5 separate regions of the Homo sapiens genome follow, and regions 1, 2, 3 and 4 are each linked to region 5. The links come from fine-mapping of genetic effects on plasma protein levels. A gene starts in region 5. Each other region holds a variant in brackets. All regions are shown on one strand. Distances are between the middles of the regions. Region 1 has its middle 21 kb from the start of PSG11-AS1. Region 2 holds the start of LINC03078 (long intergenic non-protein coding RNA 3078). Region 3 has its middle 19 kb from the start of CD177. Region 4 has its middle 6.1 kb from the start of LINC03078. Region 5 holds the start of CD177 (CD177 molecule).

Evidence for each region. PIP is the chance, under the fine-mapping model, that this variant and not a neighbour inherited with it causes the effect. Sun 2018 read protein levels with aptamers (SomaScan).
Region 1: its variant is fine-mapped to the plasma level of the CD177 protein (Sun 2018, PIP 0.95).
Region 2: its variant is fine-mapped to the plasma level of the CD177 protein (Sun 2018, PIP 0.95).
Region 3: its variant is fine-mapped to the plasma level of the CD177 protein (Sun 2018, PIP 0.95).
Region 4: its variant is fine-mapped to the plasma level of the CD177 protein (Sun 2018, PIP 0.95).

The regions. Positions count from the first base shown.
Region 1 is chr19:43,130,758-43,136,740 of GRCh38, forward strand. No RefSeq gene overlaps it. Among named protein-coding and RNA genes, the nearest start is that of PSG11-AS1, 21 kb to the right of the region's middle. The variant T/A (reference allele first, on the strand shown) is at 2,780.
Region 2 is chr19:43,328,166-43,334,148 of GRCh38, forward strand. LINC03078 (long intergenic non-protein coding RNA 3078) reads right to left here and starts at 3,343. Exons shown (of 2, transcript NR_186343.1): 1 at 3,179-3,343; 2 at 824-1,343. The variant G/A (reference allele first, on the strand shown) is at 2,759.
Region 3 is chr19:43,369,579-43,375,561 of GRCh38, forward strand. It overlaps the pseudogene CD177P1. Among named protein-coding and RNA genes, the nearest start is that of CD177, 19 kb to the left of the region's middle. The variant A/T (reference allele first, on the strand shown) is at 2,584.
Region 4 is chr19:43,334,583-43,340,565 of GRCh38, forward strand. No RefSeq gene overlaps it. Among named protein-coding and RNA genes, the nearest start is that of LINC03078, 6.1 kb to the left of the region's middle. The variant G/A (reference allele first, on the strand shown) is at 2,656.
Region 5 is chr19:43,349,969-43,355,951 of GRCh38, forward strand. It overlaps CD177 (CD177 molecule), which reads left to right and starts at 3,718. Exons shown (of 9, transcript NM_020406.4): 1 at 3,718-3,798; 2 at 3,885-4,025; 3 at 4,239-4,424; 4 at 5,693-5,815. The coding sequence starts at 3,747.

The DNA.
Region 1 (5,983 bases), 220 kb before region 5:
TGCTTTGGCCAGATGCCACTGATGGATCGTTCAATTCTTCCCTGCAGAATCGTGCCCTCAGATCCTTCTGACAGTGTGCCAGATATCCAGCATCACCTTTGCAGTTTGGGAAGTGGCACCCATCATCCACCCAGCGTGCCTTTCTTGATTTTGTCCATGGTGCTGAGATTCTGCGTGGCCCCCATGCGGTTGCTCTCACTCCATGGGTCTCCATCCAGGGTGATGCACACCCTCCTACCACCTGTGAACATTTGGTAATATCTAGAGGCGTTGCTGGTTTCCACCATTGGGAGTGGGTGCAACTGGCATCTAGTGGGAAGAGGCCAGGGATGATACTGCACATCCCATGTTGCATAGACCCCATCCCACAGCCAAGAATGATCTTGTTAAGTGTCAGTAGTGCTGATGGTGCACAGACAGTGTCCCACAGCAAAGAATAATCTTTTTAAATGTCAATAGCATCAAGGTTGGGGAACCCTGGTGTGTCTGAGAAGGAAACGTGGGATTCTCTCTCCTCTAGGATTGGATTCTGTCCCGTGGTACTGTCTACAATGACTGGGATTTTGATACCTAAATCTTCCCTTAGGAAGAAATCTTTCCTCAGGAAACTTAATTATCCTGCCAATGCTCACCAGCTGGAGTTTGACTTCATATTTTTATTGGTTTCCTGGAAACCTCTCATTGCATTCCCTCAGGCATCCACGATACCCAAACCATGCACATGAGTGACACACTGTGTTTAGCTTGCACAGCATCTCATGCCACAACCATTCCCGGCAGATTCAGCTCATTCTCCCATCGCAGCCCTGCTCCCCTATGCCCGGTTACCAGCAGGTCTCCCAGGTGAGCCTGCTGCTCCAGGATAAAACTGTGGCCACGAGCCAACACTGAAAACTGACACCTGCGGAAGTTGGCTCAAGTGCTGCCTGCTAACAACCGAATAAGTAAACCTTTGCTGCAGAACCTACCATGTAACAGGTGTCTTCTAATATTTCTCTGATTTTTCTGAGCTTATCCTAAGATAACTTTTTCACACTTCATTTGCAGAGCAGGAAGACATTATGTGTGTGTGTGTGTGTGTGTATACACACACATATATATGAGAATATAGAGAGAATATATGTAAAGGAGAATACATGTAAAGAGAATATATAATATATATAGAATATATCCTATATATTTAGAATATATAGAATATAGTTATTCTATATATAGACTATAGACTACATTATAGTCTATATATAGACTATAGACTACATTATAGTCTATATATAGACTAGACTACATTATAGTCTATATATAGACTATAGACTACATTATAGTCTATATATAGACTATAGACTACAATATAGTCTTATATAGATTATATATAGAATATATTATTTTCTATATATAGACTATTTTTCTATATATAGTTTATATAGATTATACATAGACTATATTATTCTATATATAGCTTATATAGATTATATATAGACTATATTATTCTATATATAGCTTATATAGATTATATATAGACTATATTATTCTATATATAGCTTATATAGATTATATATAGACTATATTATTCTATATATAGTTTATATATATTTTATATAAAGTTTATATACTGTTTATATATTGTCTAGACTATGTTATTCTACATATAGTTTATATATAGAATGATATAGTCTGTATATTGTCCTAGCAAACTCATAGACTTTATTATTATTTGATATATAGTCTAGTACTGATAGATAATATTATCATTCAATAAAATATATAGACATATACAAGATACATAGTCTAGACTATACATCAAATGATAATATAGTCTTTCTGTACTACTATATATAGTCTATATATAGAATAATAATATAGTCTATATATTGCAAGGAGGAAGATAATGGCTCATTTTTTATCCAGGGTAAAACTCATAAACATGTATTACTGAGTACAGATATCTTAATAGAGACAAGAAAATTCAAATTATTGGCAAGGTACTGTACATAATTGTATCCAAAAAAATCAGGCTATTTTGCATCCTAGCCAAGTTACTCTGCCCAGTCACAAGATCACAAAGGCCAAGTTACATGATCACTAAAGGTGGCATGAGAGGCTCCGACTCATCCAGGGAGTAAGAGAGTGAAGTCAGCAGTGGGAATGTTGGAGCAGCTGGTCTGTGTAAAGATGTCCTGGGGAAAAACTGGGTCAGGCTTGGAAGACAAGGCAAGCGGTACCAGAGAAATAAGCTTGACTGGAACGAGGCAGCAACAGAGGCACTGATGGAACTCCGTTCTAGAGTTATGGGAACTAAAAGGTACTCCGCTCGGCCAGCCACCAAATGAAATGGGTAAAAAGGGCTGCTTGAAATGTAACTGGGAAGATTTCATAAGCATCTATCTGTATGGGTTTGCCCGGACTGACATAACAAAGTGCCACAGACCGGGCCGCTTACCACAGACATTGATTCTCTCGCAGTCCTGGAGGCTGGAAATCTGAGACAAGGTGTGAGCGGGGCTGGTTCCTCCTGAGGCCTCTCTCCTGGGCTTGGAGATGCTGTCTTCTCCCTGTGTTCTCCCATGGTGGTTCCTCTCTGTGTAGGTCTATGTCCTCATCTCCTCTTCTTATAAGGACACCAGTCCTGTTGGATTAGGGCCCACTCTAGTGACCTTGTTTTACCTTAATCCAATCTTGTCCATTCTGCAGCCCTAGGGCCACATGCAGCCCAGGACAGCTTTGAATGTTGCCCAACACAAATTCATACTTTTTTAAAACATGAGATTTATACACGGACCTG[T/A]TTTTTCGCTCATCAGCTATTGTTAGTGTATTTTATGTTTGGCCCACAACAATTCTTCTTCTTCCATTGTGGCCCAGGGAAGCCAAAAGATTGGACTCCTTTGCCTTAATCACTTCTTTAAAGGCCCTACCTACAAATACAGTCACATTCTGAGGTCTTGGGGGCTAGCACTTCAGTGTATGGTATGGGAGAGGGGGCCTCAACTCAGCTCATAACAGCATACTTCTAATGGTGGTTCTCAGTCTTTATTTTGAGGAAAGTGGTCACTTAAATAATGACATATGGAAAAGATACAATTTAAGTAATAGAGACTTCCCACGCAAACCCCATGTAAGGGGAGGAATCGAACGTATCAAGGGCATTCCCCAAGCCCAAGGTGATAGAGGTGAGAAATGCTCACTTATTAGTGCCAATTTCAATCTCCTGATAGATTTTCATTTAGTATGCTGTAAAAGAAAATATCCCTGCAGACACTGGCACTTGAGGGATTACAGTGGTGGGGAGAAATTCCCTTATTTATTTGTGGAATTCAATGAAGCATTTCAGAGTCCACCTTCTGGGGATAACCTGTTCATTGCAATGGAGTAAATCAATAGCCTTCATTTAGATTCTTAACTGGCAATTTGATCTCATTCACTTTAACCAGCACTCATTGGCTGGAGGAATGATGGAGACTGGGAGCAGGCTCCTAAAAAGGGTCTTGAAAATGTTATTTCAACAAAGATTAATTATGAGGCATTGAGAGTTTCAGAAAGGTTCACATTTTTTTTCTAAAGCTCTTCTAAGCCAATCTTAAATGAATCCTCAGAGGACTATTTCTGTGGGTGTGTGTCTGCTTGTGTGTGTGTGCATGTGCATGTGTGTGTCTTGCCCCATTCCAGTTCTCCATCCCCATGCTGAGGAGGCTGGAGGATTCAGAATGCAGAATCAGGTGCATTTTTAAAAAATCATTATGTCAGTCCTCACCAAAACACTGGCTATTTCTATCTTTCCTTCTCATTTTACTCTGCTATAGGAGTCTAAGTAAATCATCTTTAGGAAATACCAAAACCTACCAGGGGTTTTAGATTCATGGCGGCCAACACAACCTAGTATTGATAGCCCATGTAAATGTTTGCCATCCAGATAACAAGAATAACGACAAGAGAAAACTAACATGACCTGCCCCATAGTGTGCTAGATCCACATCTCTTGGGGAATGTTTTGAAGCAAGTTAATACAAGCTACTTGATAAAAGGCTTCCGTGATGAAATGAGATTGGGGAAGCTGAGTTAAACAAAATCAAACAGTGTTCTGTGTTGGACACTTCTCAAATCCTTAACCATGCTGAAAAGCTTAGAGTATTTCCAGGAGAATAGCATAGCACCCCACATCCCAGACCTGCACAGCCCCTGCTCAGGCCATCTTGTGGGACAAACAGTATGCAAAACACACATTCTGGAACATGCTTGAGTAGAGGGGAGGCCACTCTCTAACTTGGGCACAGTTCTGCTCTGGCACACACTGACAAGGTGACACTGGGTGACTCATTTAGTCCCTCTGTAAACGGCCCTTCCTCATATGCGAGAGGCCATGGAACGTTGGCCTCTCAGACGTTACTGGCTCTAACATTATTTTGCCAAAAATAAAATAATTAGTGTGGATGTGTTATAGGAAAGGGGTCTGGATACAGACCCCAAGAGAGGGTTCTTGGATCTCACCAAGAAAGAATTCAGGTCGAGTCCATAAAGTGAAAGCAAGTTTATGAAGAAAGTAAAGGAATAAAAGAATGGCTACTCCATAGACAGAGCAGCCGTGAGGGCTGCTGCTTGCCCATTTTTATGGTTATTTCTTGACGATATGCTAAACAAGGGGTGGATTATTCATACCTCCCCCTTTTAGTCCATATATGGTAACTTCCTGATGTTGCCATGGCATTTGTAAACTGTCATGGCTCTGGTGGGAAGGTAGTAGTGAGGATGACTAGAGGTCACTCCCGTTGTCTTCTTGGTTTTGGTGGAGTTCCACTGGCTTCTGTGCAACCTGTTTTATCAGCAAGGTCTTCATGACCTGTATCTTGTGCCGACCTCCTGTCTCATCCTGTGACTTAGAATGCCTTAAGTGTCTGGGAATGCAGCCCAGTAGGTCTCAGCCTCATTTTACCCAGCCTTTATTCAAGATGGAGTTGCTCTTGTTCAAATGTCTCTGACAGATGTAATAGGTAACGCTCAGAAACTGGCATCAGAGGCTATGCAACCTGAACAGAATTGGCTGACATATATCTCCGGGTATAAAGAAAGTCTCAGCTTTCCCCTGAGATGTAATGATGAATGTCCCTAAAGCTTCCTTCACCCTTCCATGCTAAACTCGCTCCACTGTTCCATCATCTGCTTTGAAGCCACAAGGACAGCCAGTTAGGACTTTGTCATCATCACTTTTAACTTTTGTTTAACTTTTAACAAAGATTGGCCTTTTTAAAGGCTCAATTATATTTAAAAAAAAAACAAAACAAAACTTCCTGCCACTTACGCAGTCCATTCATTTTAAACAAAGTTGATAATGCAAGTCAATGGGAAAAGAATAGTCTTTTTCAACACATGGAATTGGAAAAACTGGATACCTATATGGATAAAAATGAACTTTGATCCCTTACTCCATACTCTGCACAAGCATTAAATTAAGATCAACTGAGATTTGACCTGAACATAAAATCTAAAATTTTGAAGCTTTTACAATAAAGCAAAGGTAGACAAAGACTCCTTCTACAAATACCTGGCACTAAACATTAAAAAATCATAAATTGTGCTTCATCAAAAATACATCTGCTCTTCAAGATAGATGAAAAGGCAATTCACTGACTTTGAAACCAAGTATTTGTGTTCAGAATATGTAAAGGAATTCTAAAACTCAACATAAAAAGACAAAAATAAAACAAAAACACACGCAAAAAAAAAAAAAATAGAAAATGAGCAAATTATTTGGACAAAAATCTCCCAAAAAAGGAAATGCAAATAGCTAGCAATCACAGGAAAAGTTGCTCGATATTATTAGTTATCAAGGAAATAAAAAGTGAAACCATGAGATACTCCTACCCATTAGAATGGCTACAGTTAAAACGACTGACAATACTAAGTTTTGATGAGGATGTGGAGCAATTGGAATGCTCATGTATTGAGGTGAGAATATAAAATGGTGCAACTACTTTTAATAACTACCCTATGGCTC
Region 2 (5,983 bases), 22 kb before region 5:
GGGGCATGGAAATAAGCGATTGGGGCGCAGAGATAAGAGGTTGGGGCATGGAAATAAGCGATTGGGGGGTTCTTGCCCCCTAGGAAAGCGGGACTTACCGCTAAGGGTGAAGGAGAAGGGGTTGAGTGGTACTTGCCCCTGCCCCAGGAAAGCAGAGAAGGGGTGGAGAGAAGGAGAGAAGGGGTTGGGGTACTTGCCCCACCCCCGGAAAAGCAGAGAAGGGGTAGAGACAAGGAGAGAAGGGTTGGGGTACTTGCCCCTTCCCCAGAAAAGCAGAGAAGGGGTAGAGACAAGGAGAGAAGGGGTTGGGGTACTTGCCCCTTCCCCAGAAAAGCGGGACTTGCCGCTAAGGGTGAAGGACCAAGACAGGCGTCCCTGCGTGGTCTGACACCTTTGAAACGTGGGTGAATAATCAGAGAGGCGTCCCTGCAATGATTAAACACCAAGGGAAAGCTGCCTTCCCAGTCTGTGACCGGCGCCGGAGTTTTGGGTCCACGGATAAAACATGTCTCCTTTGTCTCTCCCAGAAAATGAAAGGAATTGAAATTAAGAGAAGGGAGAGATTGAAGAGTGGAAAGGAGAAAGTGGTTGAGGGACAGTGAGAGAGGTTGGAGAAGAGAGTAAGAAGAGACCGCTTACCTGATTTAAAATTGGTGAGATGTTCCTTGGGCTGGTCGGTCTGAGGACCTGAGGTTGTAGGTGGATCTTTCTCACGGAGCAAAGAACAGGAGGACAGGGGATTGATCTCCCAAGGGAGGTCCCCCGATCCGAGTCATGGCACCAAATTTCATGCGCGTCCATGTGAAGAGACCACCAAACAGGCTTTGTGTGAGCAACATGGTTGTTTATTTCACCTGGGTGCAGGTGGGCTGAGTCCGAAAAGAGAGTCAGCAAAGGGAGATAGGGGTGGGGCCGTTTTGTAGGATTTGGGAAGGTAATGGAAAATTACAGTCAAAGGGGGTTGTTCTCTGGTGGGCAGGGGCGGGGGTCACAAGGTGCTCAGTGGGGGAGCTTCTGAGCCAGGAAAAGGAAATTCACAGGGTTAATCACTCAGTTAAGGTGGGGCAAGAACAAATCACAATGGTGGAATGTCATCAGATAAGGCGGGGCAGGGCCTTTTCACTTCTTTTGTGATTCTTCAGTTACTTCAGGCCATCTGGGCATATACATGCAAGTCACAGGGGATGCGATGGCTTGGCTTGGGCTCAGAGGCCTGACATTTCTCACATTTCAAAATGTAACAATGGTTTTCCAACAGTCCATTACCTCTTTCCAGCATTACCAGTAAAGTCCAAAGTCCCAAGTCTCTTCTGAGACAAGGCAAGTCCCTTTTGCCCATGAGCCTGTGAAATCAGAAACAAGTTATTTACTTCCAAGATACAATGGGGATTTAGGCATTGGGTAAATACTCCAATTCCAAAAGGTAGAAATAAGCCAAAAGAAATAAGATACAGGCCCCATGCAAGTCTGACACCCAGCAGCACAGTCTTTAAAACTAAAGCTCCAAAATAATCTCCTTTGACCCCATATCTCACATTTAGGGCACACTGATGCAAGGGTTAGACTCCCAAGGCCCTGAGAAGCTCTACTCCTGTGGCTTTGCAGGGCTCAACCCTCATGGCTACTCTCATGGGCCGGCATTGCGTGCCTATGGCTTTTCCAGGTGCAGTGTGCAAGCTGCCAGTGGCTCTTCCATTCCAGGGTCTTGAGGATGGTGGGTATCTTCTCCCAGCTCCTGGCCCAGTGAAAACTGTGTGGAGACACTTACCCCACATTTTGCTTCTATACTGCCCTAGTAGAGGTTCTTCATGAGGGCACTGCCCTTGTAGCAGGCTTCTGCCTGGACATTCAGGCTTTTCTATATATCCTCTGAAATGTAGGCTCCCAAGCCTAAACTGTTGCACTTTGTGCACCTGCAGGGTTACCACCACATGGAAGCTGCCAAGCTTTATGACATGTACCTTCTGAAGCAACAGGCCGAGCTGTACCTTGACCCTTTTGAGCCATGACTAGAGCAGCTGGGATGCAGTGAGCAGTGTCCTGAGGCTGCACAGGGCAGCAGAGCCCTGGGCCTGGCCCAAAATTTATTCTGTCCTCCTAGGCCTCTGGTCCTGTGATGGGAAGGGCTGCTGCAAAGGTCTCTGAAATGCCTTTAAGGCCTTCTCCTTATTGTTTTGGCTATTAGCACTTCGCTCCCTTTACTTATGCAAATTTCTGCAGCCTGCTTGAATTCCTCCCCTGAACATGGGCTTTTCTTTTCTACCACATGCTTTCCTACACACTTTCAGAAAACTGGATCTCATGAGAACTCACTATCATAATGACAGCACCAAGGAAGATGGTGTTAAACCATGAGAAACATTAGTTTATTTGCCAATGTCTGAGGTAGGCAGGTGAGGACAGCGTTTGTGCTGTTGTGGAAATGTGTTCTGAACAGGGACCTTGAAGTGAGGTGGAGGAGGTGGCCAAGGGAGAGAACACTCAGGACCCCAGATGGCTGCTGCTGCCCAGGACATCCCCGCCTCTTATGGATGTTACCCAGATTGTAGCAGGGAGAGGCTTCCTTTAAGTAGAGAGTAAACGGACTAAGAAAGCGATAGATGGCTCCACATGCCAAGAATGTTCTTTTCCTTTTCTCTCCCTTTTCTCCCTCTCCTTTTCTTTTCATGATATCAAATGCCAGAGAGGCGTGCAGAGCACGTAGGGGGCCTTCCTTGCGTTGCTGCTACCCAAGCCTGCCTGGGCTGTAAGTTCCCCC[G/A]GAGCACCCCTTTGCCCCCACCTGTGGCATGGTCGGCCTCTCTTGGGCCCAAGCCTACCCTCTGCTTCCTCAGAGCGGGTCTCAGACCAGGCAGGGGGTTTCCCAGGAGTCCCTGGGAAGGTTTGTTTTCTGCAGTGCCATGGTGACATAAATGGTTGCTTTCCTTATCATTTTTCAATATTTAGTGGCCACTGATTACTGCCTTAGAAACACGGAGCAATTGAGGTTTTCCTGCCCCTTTCCAATTCCAGTTCAATGTAATTTTCCTGCTGTGACTCCTGTCCCTCTCTGATGTCCTCTCCCCTATTCAGGCTTCAACAGAAGCCTTCTATCCCCTCTCAAAGCTCCGTCCTCCCCAGGAGACACCAGCCAGTCTCTGTGCTTCCTCCTCCCACCCTCTCCCAGGGAGTCCTCCCTCACCTGTGAGCAGGAGCCCCTGCCAGGGGATGCATCCTCTGCGGGGAGGGGCTGAGGGGGGCCTCATGGTCTCTGCTGCCTGCTTCTCTTCTGTGGAGAGGAGCTTAGCTCCAGGATGATCAGAGCTACTGTGACTGCCAGTTCTGCTGTCTTTCCTCCCTCTGTGCTGAGCCTTCTCTCAGGGCAGGAGCACTTCCTAGGGCCAGGGGCAGGGGCGGGACTCTGCCCAGGATGCTTCTCTGTCCCCTCCCCTCTCAGTCCTGCCTTCTGGTTCCTGCTTCCCCTTCCCTTCTGTGTGTGTTTGGTCCTTAGGACCTGCTGAGGCCATTTGCCTTCTTCAGATATGGCTCTCCTTCCACACTTGTCCACACACACACACATATACACACACAGAGACACACACAGAGACACACACAGAGATGCACACACACATACACACAGACATGACACAAACACAGACACACATATATACAGACATACAGGCAAACACATATACACATATATACAGACATAGAGGCAAACACTCACATATACAGACACACACACATATATACTCAGATTCATTGAAACTGAGACACATGTACACATACAGATACACAGAGCTGTCACAGGACAAACTAGCACAGATAAAGACTTCAAGTGGCTTTATTTGCCGTCCTAAAATCGGGCGAGACTTCATCCCATGAGACAATACGTGGGTCAAGGAGCTGAGCAGAAGCGCGGGTTTAATAGAGAGGGGAGGGCTGCGGAAAGCAAACACAAAAAACAGGGCCACTCGGGAAAGGCTCATGGAACAAGGGAGAAATCTCTGATGGGGGAGAATCAGGTTCCTGTTTTAGAAACGGTGAGAGCAGAGGGGAGGTCATTGTCATGCGATTGAAACTGGCCTGTTTGGGAAATCGGCTATTATCTTTCGAAGGTCAGGTAGCAGCTCAGTTTTCCTTTGGTGACCTGTGACATTGGGGAAGGACTGCATTGTGCTGTTGGTCTGGTCTGTTGGGGCCTGGAGCAGGAGCTCAGCCACTGCCATGGCCTCCTCTGACTGCTGTTTAGCAAAGCTCTCAGGTGGGGCTGATGGCGCTGTCCTGGGGAGGCCCTTTCAGTAGCAAGGCTGGTGCAACCCTGTCCCCTGGGAGGATGACCCGCCCTCCCCAGGGCTGACCTCTGCTATCTCCTGGCCTCAGGTCTGTCAGCTCCACACACAGAACCCTGGGGATCCAAACCTGGGGAATTCTTTCTTTGTGATGCAGAAACCCAGCTGGCCAGGTCTCCCCATGCTCTTTAGTGCTTGGGAAGGTGGGATGATGCCCAGCAGGAAGGTGACAGAGGTGGCTCTGGGGGATAGAAAGGAGCTCACTGGGGGATGACTGGGGAGGGACCAGCCCTCTGTCTCCAGTGTCACCAGCCTGGCCTCTGACCCAAAGAGACCCAGGCTGGACTCAGGTGGAGCTCCAGCTCCAGGGTGTGGAGGAAGTTGTCCTGTGTGTCCTGGGTAGAGAGGACTGTGGTGGAGGGAGGTGGGTGGCTCTGAGCCCTGCTGTCCTTGGGGAAGGCTTCATGGAGACCCTCCCTTTCTGTGTCTGTTGGCTGAGCTGTGGCTCAGGGCCTGTCCATGTTCTCCCTATGTTCACCCCTTAACCTTGCAGGTGGTTGGGGGGGCGAGAGAGATAGAAAGACTGTGTCTGTCTGTGTGTGTGTGTGTGTGTGTGTGTGTGTGTGTGTGTGTCCTGTGGCTACCACACCTTCCCCATGGGTGATGCCAGGAGGAAGTGGGGAGCTGCACAAAAACCCTTGGCAGAGCAGGCACCATGAAGGAGCAGGCACATGGCAGGGACCAGAAGGGTCATTTGGGGCAAGGGCTGGAAACCAGGCTCCACCTCTACCTCCTTAGCAAAGCCAGGTTCCTGTCCAGGGGAATCCATTTCCTGAGTGTTATCTGTGTGTGATGTCGCCCCCTGGAGGGCAAGAGGAGACTTGTGGCCTTGTCAGGGGCTGCCCCAGGGACACTGACCAGGGTCTGCATGGTATGAGCTGGCCCTGACCCCTGGGCAGAAGTGGGATCTGACCTCCAGACTGCAGGGTCAGGTCACCCCAGGTCCTGTTCACTGCAGGTCCCCAGGCTGCCCAACTCCATGCAGTGCAAGATGAGCCCAGGGAGAGGACAGGAGTTATCCAGAGAACAGCAGGTCGAGATTCAAGAGAACTGTCCACCAGGAGGATGGGCTGCCTTAGAAGGAGCCACCTGTCCCCAAGGTTTCAAAGGAAGGGCTCAGGGAGGTATCTCTGGGGGCTTTAGAGAGAGGATGCCAGCCTGGGAGGTAGGTGGTCCCCAGAATGCCCTGTGTTCCTCCATCACAGCACTGGGGGTGCTGCCTCCAGGTCAACTGTGTCCCTGTCTGATGCCCACTGTCACTGCTGTTACTCAATATTGTACTGGAGGCATTGGCCAATGAAATTGGGGTACAGATACGAATAGAGATATAAGACTTAGAAAGAGGGAGAATAAGCTATACCAATTCACAACCAATATGTGATTATATATCTAGGAAATTCCAGACATAGTGAAAAACTAATCAATGCAAGAATTTAATAGAAAGATGTAAAGTTAACATAAGGAGGTTAATAACTTTTATACACAGAAACAATACTCAGATAGAAGGTGTAATATAAGACCTCTTTTATTATGACAATATAAAGATAAAACACCTGGGCATACCCTTAACAAGAAATTTGTAAAACCTATACGAGAAAACTCTTAAAACACTCCTAAAGGACACAAAATTCATCTTCAAAAGATGAAGAGACACA
Region 3 (5,983 bases), 20 kb after region 5:
GCAGATGGCCACATGGATAGGGAGGACGGCGACGTACCTTACCACAAGTGGACTGAGTCTCCCAGCACTGGCCTGGCTGCACACTGTACCCAGCCCTGCCCAGTGTAGGCAGAGCCCGGGGCTAAGCCCCTGGAAGGCGTCATTTTACAGGAGGACTACCCGGCCACTGCAGATAGGCTGGCCACACAGGACACGTCCCATCCTGGAGGGGACTGGGCTTTGTCCTCACACGGATACGCACACACTGGGGGTTCCAGTTGGCCTTCCCTGGACCCTGCTCAGTGCTTCTGTGAACAGCGCCTTTCCTGTGGCTCTGGAACCCATGCAGGGTTGCTTCCACTGGGGACACGTGTTAACGCAAAGAATGGGGGGTAATTAACTCACACCCATGGAACCCACTGACCGTCTCAGGTGCCCCTCTATACAGACACAGCTGCTTCTCAGATTGGCGCAATGGCTCATGTGTGGCTTATCAGGGCACCGGGAGGGAGACCGTACCCCACCACCCACAGGAGGGGCCACACATCTTATAAACCAGCAACCAGGCTATCGGGTCACGCGCCCCAGGGCCAGATGCAAAGATCCAGGAAAGACAGGAAGAATAAGCGCGGCTCCCTCCCGTGACTGCACCTGCCAGCCCACTGAGAGAATGCTTGCTCTTTGTCCCCGTGGCCCTGGGCTGCTGTGGATGAGGAATCTCTTCCTAGTTCTGATCTGCAGGAAGCCATGACAGCCCTCCAGCCATCCTGTGCCCCTTGTGCTGCCAAAACAGCAGGCAAAGGAGACGTCACTCTGCAGTCGGGGGAATGGCATCTGATTACAGAGGGAGGTCGGGTGGCTGGGACAAGGAGGCTATTTTCGAAGGCAGGCAACTCATGGCGGTAACATTTCCTTGGCCAGGGCCCTGTTCCATGGAAAACTATAGAAACCCACTAAAGACAAGGCCATCCAAGACTCACTCTCCATAAGAATCAAGATTTGGGTTACACTGCAGGTAACAAATAACATCCAAAGGAGGTTTTGGAGGTGGGAGGACAATGTGGAATGTACTGGAAGAAAGCAGCTCTGAGCACCAGCAGCCCCGCCCCCAGGACCTCAGCAGCTGTATTGGAAGCCATCTCTTCCCCATCTTCCTCTCATTGTGGGCGAAGAACTGGTGCACAGCACAATGGGAGGAGGACATCACTGTCACCATCACACACTGTTACTGTGACAGAGGGAAGGACTGGAATTGTGTGTCGTCTGTACGGAGGACTCTGATTATTTTTTCCCCCTTGAGACAGGGTCTCGCTCTGTCCCCCAGGCTGGAGTGCAGTGGTGCAGTCTTGGCTCACTGCAGCCTTGACCTTCTGGACTCAGCCTTCTCAGTAGCTGGGACCACAGGCGTGCACCACCACACCCGGCTAATTTTTTGTTGTCTTAGTGGAGACTGGATTTCACGGTATTAGCCAGGATGGTCTCAATCTCCTGACCTCATGATCTGCCCGCCTCGGCCTCCCAAAGTACTGGGACTACAGACAGGCACGCACCACCACACCCGGCTAATTTTTTGTATTTTTTGTAGAGAAGCAGTTTCACTATGTTGCCCAGGCTGGTCTCAAACTCCTGGGCTCGAGTGATCCTCCCACCTCAGCTTCCCAAAGTGCTGGCATTACAGGCGTGAGCCACCGAGCCTGTCCTGGACTCTGATTTTCATCTGGACAAAGGGAAAGGGTGGATGCCGAGGGGCAAGGGAGTGAACGGTGCTAGACGTGTTCTGTTTCCTTCTCCAGATTCACTCTCTTCTCCTCTTCCCTTTCCTCTCCTCTGTTCTCTACTGTGAATGGCAGATCTATGGGGGCTGGACCAGTGGAGTCTCCTGCTTCTGTGGCCTCTAGGGGGTTCAGTCAATGGGGAACCTCAACTGGAGACCAGAGTGAGGACATCAGTTTGGAATTTTAGTTCCCCACTTCCCTCCCCAGTATCATTGCGGGCTGGACGCGTTTTTCAGCCTGAGATGGGAGCTCTTGTTAGGCAACCCTCTCTGAATATCTCTCTCTTTCTGTCTCCGGCTCTCTCTCCAGCTCTCTCTGTCTCTTTCTGTCTATGTCTCTCTCTCTCTCTCTCTCTCTGTCTGCAGATTCCAGCAGTGGCTCTTCTCCTCACCCTTTTTGGGCTATGGTGGTAAGAGATACCCAATGGTAACAGCTCTGGGAAAATGCTAACCCATTTTTTTCTGGAGTTCTCTTTAGCCCTTATGTCAATTATCCCACAATAGGCAGATGCTACATAGCAACGTTTGGGTCAGTGACGAATTGCGTATAGAACGGTGGTCTCCTGAGATGACAATAGTGTATTTATGCTGTACCTTTTCTATGTTTAGATGTGTATAGATGCACAAATACTTGCCGTGGTGTTACGATGCCTGCAGTATTCACACCATAACATGCACTGCAGGCTTGTAGCCTAGGAGCAGTCAACTCTACCATCCATCCTGGGTGTGTATTGGGCTGTACCATCTGGGTTGGTGTAAGTGCACTCTACAATGTTCCTTTCGTGATAAAATCACCTAACGACACATTTCTAACGACACGTCCCTGTCGT[A/T]AAGCAATGCATGACTATACTAACCTCTCCTGCAGTCGCTCAGATGGGGCCAGCCCCCTGTTTGTGCTAGGGCCCTGGCTGCTAGGCTGGAAGCCTCATACATCTCAGTGCATCTTCCCCTCCCAGGTCATGGTGATGCCCAAATACGTTTGGCTGGAGCACCCTGAAGTCTCTGCTACCATCCAAGCTGGTTTGGAGACATGAACCAGACCAATGAAGGGCAGGCTTTGGATGGCCATTTTCTCATTAGGTTCCTCTCCTCCACCATGCTAGATCCCTGGGCGTCCTGCTGTCCCCTTACATGGAGAAATCCCAGCACTGGGAGAAAGCACAGGGTCTTTATTATCAGACACATGCAGCCACTCCTCCAGTGTCCCCTCTCCCACAGGGCAAGTCCGGCTGCTCCAGGCTCTCCCCAGTGTTGCTATTAGGTGAGTAGATATGAATGATTATGTGTGGGGAAGATGATTCATGGACAGGATGGGGAAATAATCTGGTGTCCAAGGCCATTAGGTTACAAGCACAAGGGACGGTTGAGTGTGGTGGTGAGCAGCGGTGAAGAATCGTGGGGGAAATGGAGTTAGCAGGAAGGGCAAACCGCTCCCCACCACAGCGCTGGGGCCAGTGCCAGCCCCACCCCCCAAGTGAGACACTCCAGGCCCCCAGCCCCACCTCCCTCATGCTGAGAGGCAGGAGGCGGCTCATCACCCTTCTCACACACAGAGAAGATCCCAATTTGTCTGGTGTGGTTCAACAAGGAGCTGGAAGGTTGGGCCACACAGCCCTGAATGCTCATTCTGGTGGTCAGCCCACCTAGAGGGAGAAGACCAAGTCAGAAAGGACACAGAGTACAGCCCAGCCAAATTCATAAACCCAGGAGTCCAGGCCCCAGACCCTCCTCCCTCAAACGCAGGAGCTCAGACCCCCAGCCCCTCCTACCTCAGACCCAGGAGTCCAGGCCCCCAGCCCCTTCTCCCTCAGTCCCAGGAGCCCAGGACACCAGCGCCTTCATCCTTGGGGCCCTGCTTGCAGCACTCACCTCCTGAGAGATGAATGTACCCATCATAACAATGAGTGGCGCCCCTGGGGCAGGTCATTCGGGGGGAGCCACTTGAACAGGTTCCAAGGGGCTGCACACAGGTAGGACACTGCCGGTCTCCTGGGACAGGGGCAGCTGGGGAGCAGAGGGAAGGTGGGGGTACATGACTTTGTGCTCAGAGCAGCTGCCCACCTTGGGCCAGAGTCTCTGTGTGTCTGGGCCTCATTTCTCCACGGCCCTGGATCCCATACCTTGAGGAGGGAGGGAGTTCAGCAGAACGCTGCTGCTGCTGGCACTATTGCACAGGTCCGAGGAGCAGAAGTGGGTATAGGAGGCCACAAGCACCCCAGGAGGGGCTGAGTGGATGGTGGTCTTCTGGGAATTTTGAGCCCCAACAGCGCTGCAGCTTTAGGTCGCCACCAGGGTTGATGTGAGTCCTGAGGGTGAGAGGGAAAGCTGGGCTGGGGACTGGGCAGCTCCCAGGGCAGCAGGGGCTCCAGAGCTGGACTCCCTGCCCTTCACAATACCCCCCAGGCAGAGGGTGAATGCCCTGATCACAACTGCTGGGTCATGTTTAGTGTGGGGCAAAGACGGAGGCTGGGGCCTGGGTCCTGCCCGAAGCTCTGCCTCCTCCCAGTTCTCGCTCAAACGTCACCTTCTCCATGAGTCTCCCCTGAGCACTGAGCTTAAAATTGCAGCCTTCCCCTCACTTTTCCTATCTCCTTTTCCTTGCCAGATTTCTCTCCAGAGCTGGGATCTCCATTCCCCATACTTTGCTGCTTTTTGTTTGTTTGTTTCCTGTTTCTCAAGGCATATAAAGCTGCAGGAATACAGATGGGATTGGATCTGCGGCACCTAAAACAAATGCTGGATAAACATTTCCAGAATGTATGAAGCCACTGAGAGTCCTCGGTGTTGGCACGGTTCTCCACCCTGGGCAGGGATTACCGCATACGTGGTCACCCCTCCCCAGAAAGGCAGACACTGTCATTCCCACTGCTTCACCCCCAGTTTTCATAAGGGGAACCCAAGATGCAGAGAGAAGAAGAGTCGGATTGAAAATTGCAGATGTGAAGGGAGCTGAGCAGGAAATTCAGGGGAAAGAATCCAGTGGGGTGGAGGGAGCTGCCAGGGACTTGGGACAGGTGTTCGTCTTCTACCTCAGTCCACGTACCTACATCTATGAGCAGCAGCATCTCCTGACACACCTGCCCCACCTCGCACGTCTCGGTATTAGATGTGGCCCAATCAGTGGGTTCTTTACTCAAGTTTTCCTGCTTCTTCAAGGTGGTCCCCCGATGACAGGTCAGAACATCTGGGGAGAGGAAACCCAGGGTCTGTGTAAGCCAGGAACCCACCATGTCTGTCCCTCCACGTCCTGGGCTAGGGAAGGTGATCATGCTCTTGAGTCACACTCCAGGTGACCTGGCCACGGAGTCCCTCAACCACGGATTCAGAAGGGACTTGGGAGTCCAAACCCCACCCCCATTGTTCCCTGTTTCTGCTTGAACACCCGCAGGGACGTCCTCTCACAGCCCTGTGAGAACAGCCATTCCTTGCTTCAGCTGTGAGAGCAATGGAAGCTCTTCCTGAGCCTCTGCCCATCTCTGCTTCCCCATCTGAGCTTTAAGGTCCTCATTTCAATAATAAGGAAGGCAGCCTGAGACCTTTCTCATACCTTTCAGTTGCAAAGCCCTATGTTCCAAACAAGATGCGAAGGGCCAGGGTGGGCTGAGCACTGCCGCTGAGCACTGCCTCTGCACCTGGCTGACCTCATTGCTTCCCACAGATCCACCCATCTAAGGTTCCAGGGAACACAGCTTATCTGGGATGCCTCATTTCCCCACAGCACCCCAGCAGTAGGTGGTGTGATCACAATCAACACCCTCATTTGCAACAAGGGAAACAGAGGCAGGATTGCTCAGTAGCTGCCCATGCCACACAGCTTGTGAGTGGCAGAGGTAGGCTGGGAACCCAGGGACTCTGGACCCTCAGGGTCGGGGTTGGGAGCAGGAGGGAGACAGGTACTGAAGACCATCCTCGGCTACCTTGGCCCCGAGGCCCTCAAGGCTCTAGTGTGAAACCACAGCCCCTGGCCTCCCCTCACGGCCATCACAGAGCAGGGGGGATCGGTCCCATGATGCAGGGACTCTTAGACTGAGCCCCCAGCTTCCACCAACACATGCGACCTGCAGAACCGATGCCACCCTGGAGGGCTGCTCATTTGCATACTTCACAGATGACAAAATCAAAATCATGGCTCCTGCTCCCTTCTCCCACCCTTCTCTCCCCACTCCCATCTCCCCTACTTACACCCGTGGCGGCTCGTTTCTGCCAGTCTAGCTGAACACATTGGTGTTG
Region 4 (5,983 bases), 15 kb before region 5:
CCTCCAGAGGCAACCATCGTGCTGAGTTTTCATCATAAATTAATGTTGTCTGTAGAAGAATTCCATATAAATAGAATCATACAATGTGTACGTTTTCCTGTGGGTTAAATTTTCTTTTGCTCAGCAAAATGTTTTTGAGAATGAAGTATTTTGTTGCCTCTATCAGTAGTTTATTACTTTTTTTTTTTTTGAGACAGAGTCTCGCTCTGTCGCCTAGGCTGGAGTGCAGTGGCATGATCTCTGCTCACTGCAAGCTCCGCCTCCCGGGTTCATGCCATTCTCCTGCCTCAGCCTCCCAAGTAGCTGGGACCACAAGCGCCCGCCACCACACCTGGATAAATTTTTTTTTTTAAATATTTTTAGTAGAGATGGGATTTCACCTTGTTAGCCAGGATGGTCTCAATCTCCTGACCTCGTGATCCACCCGCCTCGGCCTGCCAAAGTGCTGGGATTACAGGCATGAGCCACCGGGCCCGGCCTTGTTTATTACTTTTTATAGCAACATAATATTCAGCAGTGTGAATATACCACATCTGGCTTATTCATCCTCCTATTGATGGGTATTTTGTTTTAATATTTCCTCAGTTTTGGACCATTATTATTATGAATAAATCTGCTTTTAAAAATAACTTTGTGTATGTTTTGGATGGGCACAGTAGCTCATGCCTGTAATCCCAGCACTTTGGGAGGCCAAGGAGGCACTGATCCCTTAAGGCCAAGAGTTCAAGACCAGCCTGGGAGACATGATGAAATCTCATCTCTACAAAATAATAATAATAAAACAAAATAACATCTTTGTATGTGTCTTGTTATGATCACATGTTTCATTCATTTTGGGTAAAATACCTAGGAATGAAATTGCTGGGTTATGGAGTAGGTATATGTTTACTTGTATAAGAAAGGGACAGACTTTTCCCAAAGTGGTTGCATCATTTTACATTCTCAACAACAGTATATGAGAGTTCTGGTTGCTCCATATATCCTCATCAACATTTGGGGTCTTGTCTTTCTACTTTCAGGAATTTGGTTGGTGGGTTGCAACATTTGATTGTGATTTTAATTTGCATTTCCCTGATGACTGATGATGTTGAGTAGTTTTTTTCTGTGCATATTAGCTATTCGTATATCTTATTTTGTGAAGTTTCTGTGAAAATCTTTTAGTCATTATTGCATTCAGAACAAAGGATTAAAAAAATGCATCGCTTGAACCCCCGAGGCAGAGTTTGCAGTGAGCCAAGATCGTGCCACTGCACTCCAGCCTGGGCGACAGAGTGAGACTCCATCTCAAAAAACAAAAACAAACAAACAAACAAAAAAAAGCATGTGGAACTTTAGCATGAGTTGACTTCACTTTGGGCATGCTGTCTTTAGCAGTCACAAAAAAATGAATAGGCGGGTGAACTATTGTAGAATGTAAGAGATATAATAACCAAATATAAGGCATAAGTCTTGATTGGATTCCAGTTTTAAAAATACACATGGATAGCCAGGCGTGGTGGCACACACCTATAGTCCCAGCTACTCTAAAGACTGAGGCAGGAAGATCAGTTGAGCCTGGGAGGTGGAGGTTGCAGTAAGCTGAGATCCTGTCACTGCACTCCAGCCTGGATGACAGAACAAGATTCTGTCTCAAAATAAATTAAATAAATAAATACAGATGGAAAAATCATTTTGGAGACCAAAGGGGAAGACTGAAAAAGGACTATATATTAGATAGGGTTAGGGAGTTATTGTTTATTTTCTCAGGTGTGATCATGGGATTGTGGGCCAGTCACTCTGGGGAGAGGCACGCTAAAGCACTCAAGGACATAGTGTCACTCAAGGACACAGTGCCTTGATGCCTGCAATTTACTCTGACACAGTTCAGAAAAAAACGAGGAAATATGGCAAAATGTTAAACTTGAATATAAGGAGAGGATGCGGGTATTCTTGGTATTATTTTTTCCGCTTTTCTGGATGTTTGAAATTTTCATAATAAAAAGTTGAAAACAAAGGATGATGTGTAAGAAAGTAACTTGGTGGCATCAGAGGTCATGGATGGTGGCATTGGTGCAAAGACATCAAGGATGGGAAGGGTCTAGTTATACAAAGAGTAGATGAAAGACACCCCAGGCACAGGAACAGCAAGTGCAAAGGCCCTGAGGTAGGAACTAGCCAGCATCACATTGTCAGCCCTGCGAGTGACCTTCCTAGAAAGCAGACCCTTCAGGCCCAGTAAAGCTGCAGATGACTGCACCCTGACTGGCTTCTTTACTCCAACCTCATGAGACTCACCAAGTCACAATCACCCAGCTTCATAATAAAAAGCTGAAAACAAACACTCTTCAATTCCTGCCCCACAGAATTTGAGAGGTAACAAATATCTGTTGCTGTTTTAAGCCCTGAAGCCCTGGGGTAATTTGCTAGGCAACAATGGATAACTAATGCAGCTTCTGTCACATCTTCTAGGAAACTTCTTAACCTGCTCTCTCAGTACAAAATCCCCTTTCTCCATTTGGTTCCATGTAAACCTCTGTTCATCCTTCAAAATTCACCTAAAGGAGTGTTTCCCAAAATAGGGTTCAGGTGTCAGTGGCTGAGGGCATGTGAGATGATTCTAAGGGGTTACACACGACAGTTGTTAAAAAGCGTTACAGGCTATGCTTGTGATTAAGC[G/A]CCTATTAGAGAAAAATAATTGAAAATAGCATATTAATCACATGATTGGATAAACATTATTGTTTTAAGATGAGGCCAAAGAAAAACAGTGAGTTGCTTTAAGGAAAATTTTTGAGTAAATAGCAGTGCAAGTGCTATTCAGATCGTAAAAGTGGAACACGACTAAAATTTGGAAGCGCAGTGAGGAATAGCAGGAATTCCTCTAGGAAACCTTCCCTGCCGCTCCAGGTGGGCCAGTTTGCCCCTCATTCAGACCCCTAAATACCTAAATATCTCTCCACTTGGCGCTGGTGGAATGTGTCAGGATCCCATCTCTGGCTGATGGAAGTCTGTGAGGAGGCTGTGGGCTCTGCATCTGACCTGAGCTCCAAGTCTGCAGGGCAGGCCCTGGGGAAGGGGAGATGGATGGAAAGTGGGGAGTAAGGACAAGCCAGGAGCCCACACAAGGTGGAAGGTTTCGGGACCCACAGAACCTGCCTCTATTCTTGCTGCCTCATCTTGGTGGTGCAGGGGACCTGCAGGAGTGACCTTTGTCACAGAGGTCAACGCACACCTGGCTCAGGAGGTGGAGAAACTGAAGGAGGATTGGGGTAAAGGTGGAGCAGTTTCAGGTCCTGCTGCTGCTCCAGGCTGACCAGCCGAGCTAGCAGATGAGCAACACCTGGACCTGAGCCACGGAAGCTCCTGCCTGGATTTCCCCAGCATGAAATGCACAACGGCGGCTGCTTTGGGCAGGTGTGTCCCGCTCCCACCCTAACAGGAACCTACAGGGAAGAGAGTTCTGAGAGGTGTCGTTCAGCCTAGCCACAGTCATTGTCACCACACCCTCTTATGGGCCTGAGCACCCTTTTCTGTCTGCCCTTCCTGGGAATGAGAAGTCCCTGAGAGCGGGGATGGGTCTCATTCATTTTGGGGTCTTAGTATCATTCAGCATAGGGCTTGGCACAGAGCAGGAGCTCAGGGAGTGCACAGTGAATTAATGAATGATTCTTAAAGAGCCCCTACATTTAAGTAAGAAATCCATCCATTGAATAAGAAATCCATCCATCACAGGTTCTTCCTGTGTCCACCTGGGTGGGGAAAGATGGACTCATCAGTGGCCTGAAAGGGATCAAGTTAAGTCACCCCAAAATGTACCACGTTGGTATAAGGATTGTTTTGAGCTGAAGGCCATTGAGAATCAACAGATGCTGGAAGAGCACTGCCCTCTCCTTATCTACCTAGAAGCAGGGCATATATTTCCTTTTGGGAAGGTGTTTCCTCCCCAGACCATTAAGAAAAGCAACTCATCCTGGAGATGGCGAGTCCACACTGAGATGAGTATGCATAGACCGACCTCACTAACAGAACCTGCATCTCCATCAGTGCCCCAGGTATTTCCGGGTCACTGTCCCATGATGTATCACCCTTTGAAGAACAAGCCCCTTTCCTTTGTTAAAATGGTATATAAGCCCCACAAGTCTAGCCGTTTCATTTTTTCTTTTCTGTGAACTCCCATGCATGTAATAAAAATTCTCTGCCCTTTCTGTTGTTAATTGGTCTTTTGTTAGTTTAATTCACAGGCCTCCAGATACTGAACCTAAGTGGATAGAGGAAAAGCATTCCCTCCCTGAAAGGCAGTTTTCCAGACTAACAAACAAATGTCATAAGTATGTACATCTTCCAGAAAACGGAGTTGTCTAGTTACATAGTATGCCCTGGGCAATGGATTAATACATGTAACTTAGGCAATTCATCTGAATTTCAGATTTTTGAAGGCTAAGAGCTACCTTCACAGGACCAAGTGATGGTCTCTGGAGTCTGGGTGTTTTACAGAGCTCCATTGATAGAAATAATCTTTGCAAGAACATTGTAGGATGATGAATAGGATCTGCTTATATCTCAAGTTGTCTGGGAAGCGGGGACATTTGCTCCTTCTTATCTTGCTGGGATTTCTGTCACCAGCAGTTGGAAGGGACTCCAGTTTTAAGACAAAGGTTTACAGTTTCTTTGGCACCAAGAGCAAAAGAAGCATAAAACTAGGCAGAAAGGGGTATAATATTATCATGTTGAGAAAAGGAATATGGAAAATGTAACCTTTTGCATCTCCTGAGTTAATGAATCTATACTCTGAGAAGGGCAGAAATGAGAACCACCTCCCCATCTCTGCAATAAATTCCCTAGAAGGTTTGGATTTTAGCCAAGAAGTTTCTGCTTTCCTGGAGAATGTCTCTCAATTCAAACTCTAAACCCCAAAGCCAGAAAAGGCAAACGTTACCTTGTCTGGGCTTTAATCCAAGTTTTCAGTGGCTGGAAACACGGTTACACTCCTGGAGACAAGGTGGCCTTGGACACCCAGGAAGAGCCCTGCTCCCGGGCACACCTGGCCCTGGAGCCAGACCACCTGGGTTTGAACCCCAGCTCTGCACCTTACCAGCAGAGCTTCCTGTCTGGAAAGTGGAGATGATCGTGATATCACTGACCTCAGACTGTGGTTGTCTCAATTAAATTAACAATCCATGTTATGAGTGTACAAGTATCGGGCACAGAGCATTGACTCAATTAATACTGATCTGTAATGAATGGGGATTCATGCCAAGTGCTGATGATGTGCATGACATTAGTGCTGACTGCTGTAAGTACTGGAAGCCGTCATGATAATGAACAGTGACTTTCATCACAGTTCATGGGGTCCTTTGTGAAACATGAGGGGGCATTAAGCAGAAACAGCCAGCCCAGCCCTCTCCACCACCCTTTGAGGAGGTGTATCTATGCCTGGTTTACAGTGTGGAAACTGAGGCTCAGAGACGGGGACTGGATTGTGCACGGTCACCCAGTCATGAAGGCCAAGAAATGATGGATGGGATGCAGGCTGTGTGCTCAGCCCCCTCCCTGTGGAGCAGCTCAGGGGCGTGGGGCATCCAGTCGCCCTGAAGATGCTGCTCTTGTCTGTCTGCCTCTCTCTCTTTCCACCACACTAGGTCTCTGTTTCTGGCTCTGTCTCCTCTTCACTGTGTGTCTGTGGTTCACTTTGTGTCTTTTCATCTCTGTGTCTCCCTGTCTGTCTCTGTCTTTGTCTCTCTACCAATGGGTACCTTCTGTCTTTCCTTCCTTCTTTTCTTTTCTTTTCTCTTCTCTTCCTTTCTTCCTTCCTTCCTTTCTTCCTTCCTTTCTTCCTTCCTTCCTTCCTTTCTTTTCTTTCCAGAGTCTCACTCTATCACCCAGGCTGGAGTGCAGTGTCATGATCTTGGCTCACTGCAACCTCTGCCTCCTGGGTTCAAGTGACTCTCCTGCCTCAGCCTCCTGAGTAGCTGGGATTACAGGTGTGTGCCACCACATCCGGCTAATT
Region 5 (5,983 bases):
GGGAATAATCAATCACGTATTCATCTCACGCTCAGTAAATTGGCACCTTGAGAAAGATAAGGTGAATATGGCCGGGCGTGGTGGCTCACACCTGTAATCCCAGCACTTTGAAAGGCTGAGGTGGGAGGATCTCATGAGCCCAGGAACTTGAGACCAGCATGGACAACATGGCAAAACCCATCTCTACAAAAAAAACCACAAAAATTAGCTGGGCGCGGTGGTGGGTGCCTGTAGTCCCAGCTACACGGGAGGCTGAGGTGACAGAATGACTTGAGCCCGGGAGACAGAGGTCGCAGTGAGCCAAGATCGTGCCACTGCGCCCCAGCTTGGGAGACAAAGTATGATACTCTCTCAAAAAAAAATAAATAAGTAAAAATTTTTTTAAAGAAAGATAAGATGAACATAGAGTAGCTACCTACGGAGATACTTAACCTTTTCTCTGTAGCTGTCTGCTTAGGAACAAAAGGAAAGGCAGTTTCTTGCATGACTCAGCTTCCAGTTTTTTTTTTTTCCTTCTGTCACAGTGAATTGGGGTCCTGAGTTTTTGTTTCTCTTTCATAAAGACAACGCAGTGCAGTTCATGCTTGACCCCGGATGTTCTCCTGATCAGAAAGCAAAAACGCAATGAGAGATGTCATTGGGACAACAGAGGAAAACTGGAAATGGGCTTCCTATTAGACAACAGTGCATCTGTGTAAACTACACGGGTCTGATCCTGGTCTGTGGTTACGCAGGACAAAGTCCTTAAGAATAATCTATATAGGCTGGGCGTGGTGGCTCACACCTGTAATCCTAGCACTTTGGGAGGCCGAGGCAGGTGGATCACCTGAGGTCAAGAGCTCAGGACCAGCCTGGTCAACATGGTGAAACCCTGTCTCTACTATAAATACAAAAATTAGCCGGACGTGGTGGCAGGCGCCTGTAATCCCAGCTACTCGGGAGGCTGGGACAGGAGAATTGCTTGAACCTGGAGGGCGGAGGTTGCAGTGAGCAGAGATCACGACACTTCACTCCAGCTTGGGTGAGAGAGCAAAACTGCATCTAAAAAAAAAGAGAGAGAGAGGAAAAAAAAGAATGATATATGCTTTTTAAAAATTTTTTTATTTATTTATTTTTTGTGATGGAGCCTGGCTCTGTCACCCAGGCTGGAGTGCAGTGGTGTGATCTCGGCTCACTGCTGCAACCTCCACCACCAGCTTCAAGTGATTCTCCTGCCTCAGCCTCCCAAGTAGCTGGGATTACAGTTGTGTGTCACCATGTCCAGCTAATTTTTATATTTTTAGTAGAGATGGGGTTTCACCATGTTGGCCAGGCTGGTCTTGAACTCCTGACTTAAAGTGATCCTTCCAAAGTGCTGGGATTACAGGTGTGAGTCACTGTGCCCAGCCCCCTTAAGAATAATCTTAAGAAGGTTCTTGCTGAAGCACTTAGTGGTGAGAGTTACAATGTCTACTCCTTGTTTTTAAAATTTAAGAATATTTTAAAAGCATATGTTGTGTGTGTATAAACAGATACAATAAAATGTGAAGAGTGGGTGAATCCAGTGAAGGGGATACTTGTGTTCACTGTACTATCCTTGCAACTTTTCTGCCGGTTTGAAATTTTTCCGTCTTTTTTTTTGAGATGGAGTCTTACTCTGTTGCCCAGGCTGGAGTGCAGTGGTGCGATCTCGGCTCACTGCAACCTCTGCCTCTTGGGTTCAAGCGATTCTCCTGTCTCAGTCTCCGGAGTAGCTGGGACTACAGGTGGCTGCCACTACACCGGGCTAATTTTTGTATTTTTTTTTTAAGTAGAGATGGGGTTTCACCGTGTTGTCCAGGTTGGTTTCAATCTCCTGACTTCAATAGATCCACCCGCCTTGGCTTCCCAAAGTGCTAGGATGACTGGTATGAGTCACCGCTCCCAGCCTGAAATTTTTCAAAATGAAAACACCGCAGGTCAGGAGTTTGAGACCAGCCTGAACAACATAGTGAAACCCTGTCTCTATTGAAAATACAAAAATTAACCAGACATGGTGGTGTGCACCTGTAGTCCCAGTTACTCGGGAGGCTGAGGTGGGAGAGTTGCTTGAGTCCAGGAGATGGAGGCTGTAGTGACCTGCAGTGAGCTACAACTGCACCACTGTACTCCAGCATAGGTGAGAGCAAGACTCTGTTTCTAAAAAAAAAAAAAAATTACTGGGCATGTACTGTATGCCATGTAGGTGGTGGAGACATAGCAGGAGATCAGACAAACACTTCCCTGTCTGTGTGGCAAATATTAAACTTGCAATAAACTTGCAAAGACAAATAAAGATAAAATTTATAGAGATGTCAAAAATAAACATATAATTGCAAGTCACATTCATTTCTCTTTCTCTGCTATTCCTGCTCTCGCCTTCCCTCTTCTGCTTCTCCTCTCTCCGTCACAGACACCCACAACGTCCCTCTGCAGTCACTGACAGATACCCCAGGTTCCTTCCTGTCTTCCTCCCCGCCACCCCAGTGTGTTACAGCTGATTTGTACAGCCCTGGACAAGCCCATGGTTAAATAGCTAGGGATTTCATCAGCCTGGTTGGCAAACTGTAGGTAGCTTAAAATCAGACATGCTATGAGTATTTACACCAGAGAAATAGGCCAACACTACGAGGCAGGATTTGTGGGTATTGTTTTTCAGAAAACTTGGTTTTTCAGCACAACACTGCTCTCCCATCGGCTTCCAGCAAATAAATGTTGCATTTTTCAGATATATCCTAATTCTTTCATAGATATTCAGTCTCTACTCCACCTCTGGCCAAGCCTTTCCTGGTGGTAGGAAACTGGGGACTTGAGTCCTATGTTGTACTGTGAGGGTAGAGAATAGAAGAGAAAGCATGAGAGAAAAGCATGAAAAGAAGAATCAAAAGAAAGCAATATAAGAAGGAAAGAGAAAGAACAGAGAAGTGGGAAGACAGTGGAGGGTAGAAACTAGGACCGGAAGACATGGGGACAAGCTGATGCCCACTGCACAACGTCCTCACAGGTAGTTGGGCCATTTCCCCATCTGGGGTACAGAGGTGGCCAGGGAGCCCATGAGAAATGAGGAAACTGCCTTCCCAAACTACTGGAGAAAGAGGGTGGGGGTGGTGATCCACATAGCTGGGCTCAGGAGGAAAGAGGGCTGGGAGTCTGGACCGGGGGAACCTCGGGTCAAGATGCCACAGTTTCTAACTATGGAGGGCCTGGGGGCCTGGACTCCTGGGTCTGAGGGAGGAGGGCCTGGGGGTCTGGACTCCTGGGTCGGAGGGAGGAGGGCCTCGGGGCCTGGACTCCTGGGTCTGAGAGAGGGAGGCCTGGGGCCTGGACTCCTGGGTCTGAGGGAGGAGGGGCTGGGGGGCTGGACTCCTGGGTCTGAGGGAGGAGGCACTGGGGGCCTGGACTCCTGGGTCTGAGGGAGGAGGGACTGGGGGCCTGGACTCCTGGGTCTGAGGGCGGAGGGGCTGGGGGTCTGGACTCCTGGGTCTGAAGGAGGAGGGGCTGAGGGGCTGGGGGTCCTGGACCCTCCATCTGAGGGAGGAGGGGCTGGATGCCTGGACCCGAAGGTCTGAGGAAGAAAGGGGGTCCCTGATAGGCCACTGCGGCCATTGAGACTTGGGGTGGGGCCCAAGCCTCCATTTTGCAAGGCCCTCCCCTCCCCACCCTTTTCTGGGCTGGCTGCTTAAGGGCTGGTATAAAGGACTTGTTTCCTGCTGAAAAAGCAGAAAGAGATTACCAGCCACAGACGGGTCATGAGCGCGGTATTACTGCTGGCCCTCCTGGGGTTCATCCTCCCACTGCCAGGTGAGTGATGAGCCCAGCCTGGAGGAGATTCCCTGGAGGCCGGGCAAGGGAACCCTGCTGAGATGGATTTGCTCTTGCCACTCCAGGAGTGCAGGCGCTGCTCTGCCAGTTTGGGACAGTTCAGCATGTGTGGAAGGTGTCCGACCTGCCCCGGCAATGGACCCCTAAGAACACCAGCTGCGACAGCGGCTTGGGGTGCCAGGACACGTTGATGCTCATTGAGAGCGGTGAGAAGGCCCTGGCGTGCAGAGACCCCGCCCTGTCCCCTCAGTCCCTTGATCCCTGTGCAGGGACCCGGGAGCCACCCCTCCGGGGGATCGACTCCTAGGGTCCCGGTGATCCCCTTTCCAGCCTCTCAGCCTACGCCGTGTAGCAGCGTCTCCCTCCAGGACCCTGGAGGCCTGACCTCCATCCTCGCTTGCCTCCCTCTTTCGGTCCAGGACCCCAAGTGAGCCTGGTGCTCTCCAAGGGCTGCACGGAGGCCAAGGACCAGGAGCCCCGCGTCACTGAGCACCGGATGGGCCCCGGCCTCTCCCTGATCTCCTACACCTTCGTGTGCCGCCAGGAGGACTTCTGCAACAACCTCGTTAACTCCCTCCCGCTTTGGGCCCCACAGCCCCCAGCAGGTGCCTGCGGGAGGGTCGGGAGGAGAGGGAGGGGCTGCTAGAAGGGGATCCGCTGAGCACAGAGGGGCTGTTACGGAGTCCCTCCCACCCTCGCTCGCTATCCCGACCCTCGCTGGCTCCATCCCTCCCCTGACTGCTCCCTGACCATCGCCCCGCCCCGCTCCCTTTCCATCCCTCCCCACTCACTCCCGATCCCTCCCACCGACCTGCCACCCGGGAATCCCCGCACCCCTCCTCTTCTAAGAGCAAACAGGACGGATTTCTGATATGAAATCACCATTAACTGGGTTATCCTGCATTCTTTTTTTATTCTGTTGCGTTTGGTTCAAGAAGTTCTCCTGCAGGGTTTTTGCTATTTCCTCTTCCTAAGGGAGACTGAACTGTAACTTTCCACTTTCCTTGTCTGGTGTTATAAAGAGTCTAGGGAGATATTTTGCGCTTCTTTTATTGGAACAGCTTGTGAACACAGAAGTCTCCTGTTCTTGGAGGTTTAGTAGCGCTTGCAGGTGAAGGCACTGGCTCGTTCCAGGGCACCCCCTCATTCCCTTGACCAATGAGTCTGCTTCTGTGTCTCCCCTCGGAAGGCCAGACTTTGTTGAAAGGTTCAGACTTGACCATGTCTGAGTCTACATTTGGCCTCAGCAGGCCCCTCCTCCACCCTGCCCACCCCCCACCCCCACTTGCCACCCAAGACACCCCCCCTTTTCTTTTCTTTTTTTTTTTTTTTTTTTTTTTTTCTGAGAAAGCGTCTCGCTGTGTCGACCAGGCTGGAGTGCAGTGGCGCAATCTCGGCTCACTGCAACCTCCGACTCCCGGGTTCAAGCGATTCTCCTGCGTCAGCCTCCCACGTAGCAGGGACTAGAGGAGCCTGCCACCACGCCCGGCTAATTTTTGTATTTTTAGTAGAGACAGGGTTTCACTATGTTGCCCAGGCTGGTCTTGAACTCCTGACCTCGTGATCCACCTGCCTCAGCCTCCCAAAGTGCTGGGATTACAGGTGTGAGTCACCACACCCAGCCAAGACCACTTTCTGTACCCAGCCCTGGGTGCCTCTACCCAGACCTCCTGTTCATTCTCCCTTCCTCTTTTATGGATTACACTTCTTTATTTTCCCACATCCAGATCCCATGATGGGAGCTGCAGAAGGCCCCTTTGGGAAGGCTGAGCAGGTTGACTCTTGAGGCCAGCAAAAGTGGGGTGCAGAGAAGGTATCTGATCAAATCCAGTGCCCTCTCAGTGCCCCCTCACTCTGTCTGTCACTTTCCTAGACCCAGGATCCTTGAGGTGCCCAGTCTGCTTGTCTATGGAAGGCTGTCTGGAGGGGACAACAGAAGAGATCTGCCCCAAGGGGACCACACACTGTTATGATGGCCTCCTCAGGCTCAGGGGAGGTAAGCCTGGGACATCGGGGTCCCTGTGGGGACTGAACTGGAAGGTCTGGGGACTGAGATCTTAGGCTTTGGGGAGTGAGGTGAGCTGAGGCACGGCATGAGACCCAGAGGAGGGTGGGCCTGGCTTCCTGGAGCTATGCCTGCCTCTGAGGGTTGGGTGGTCCTGGA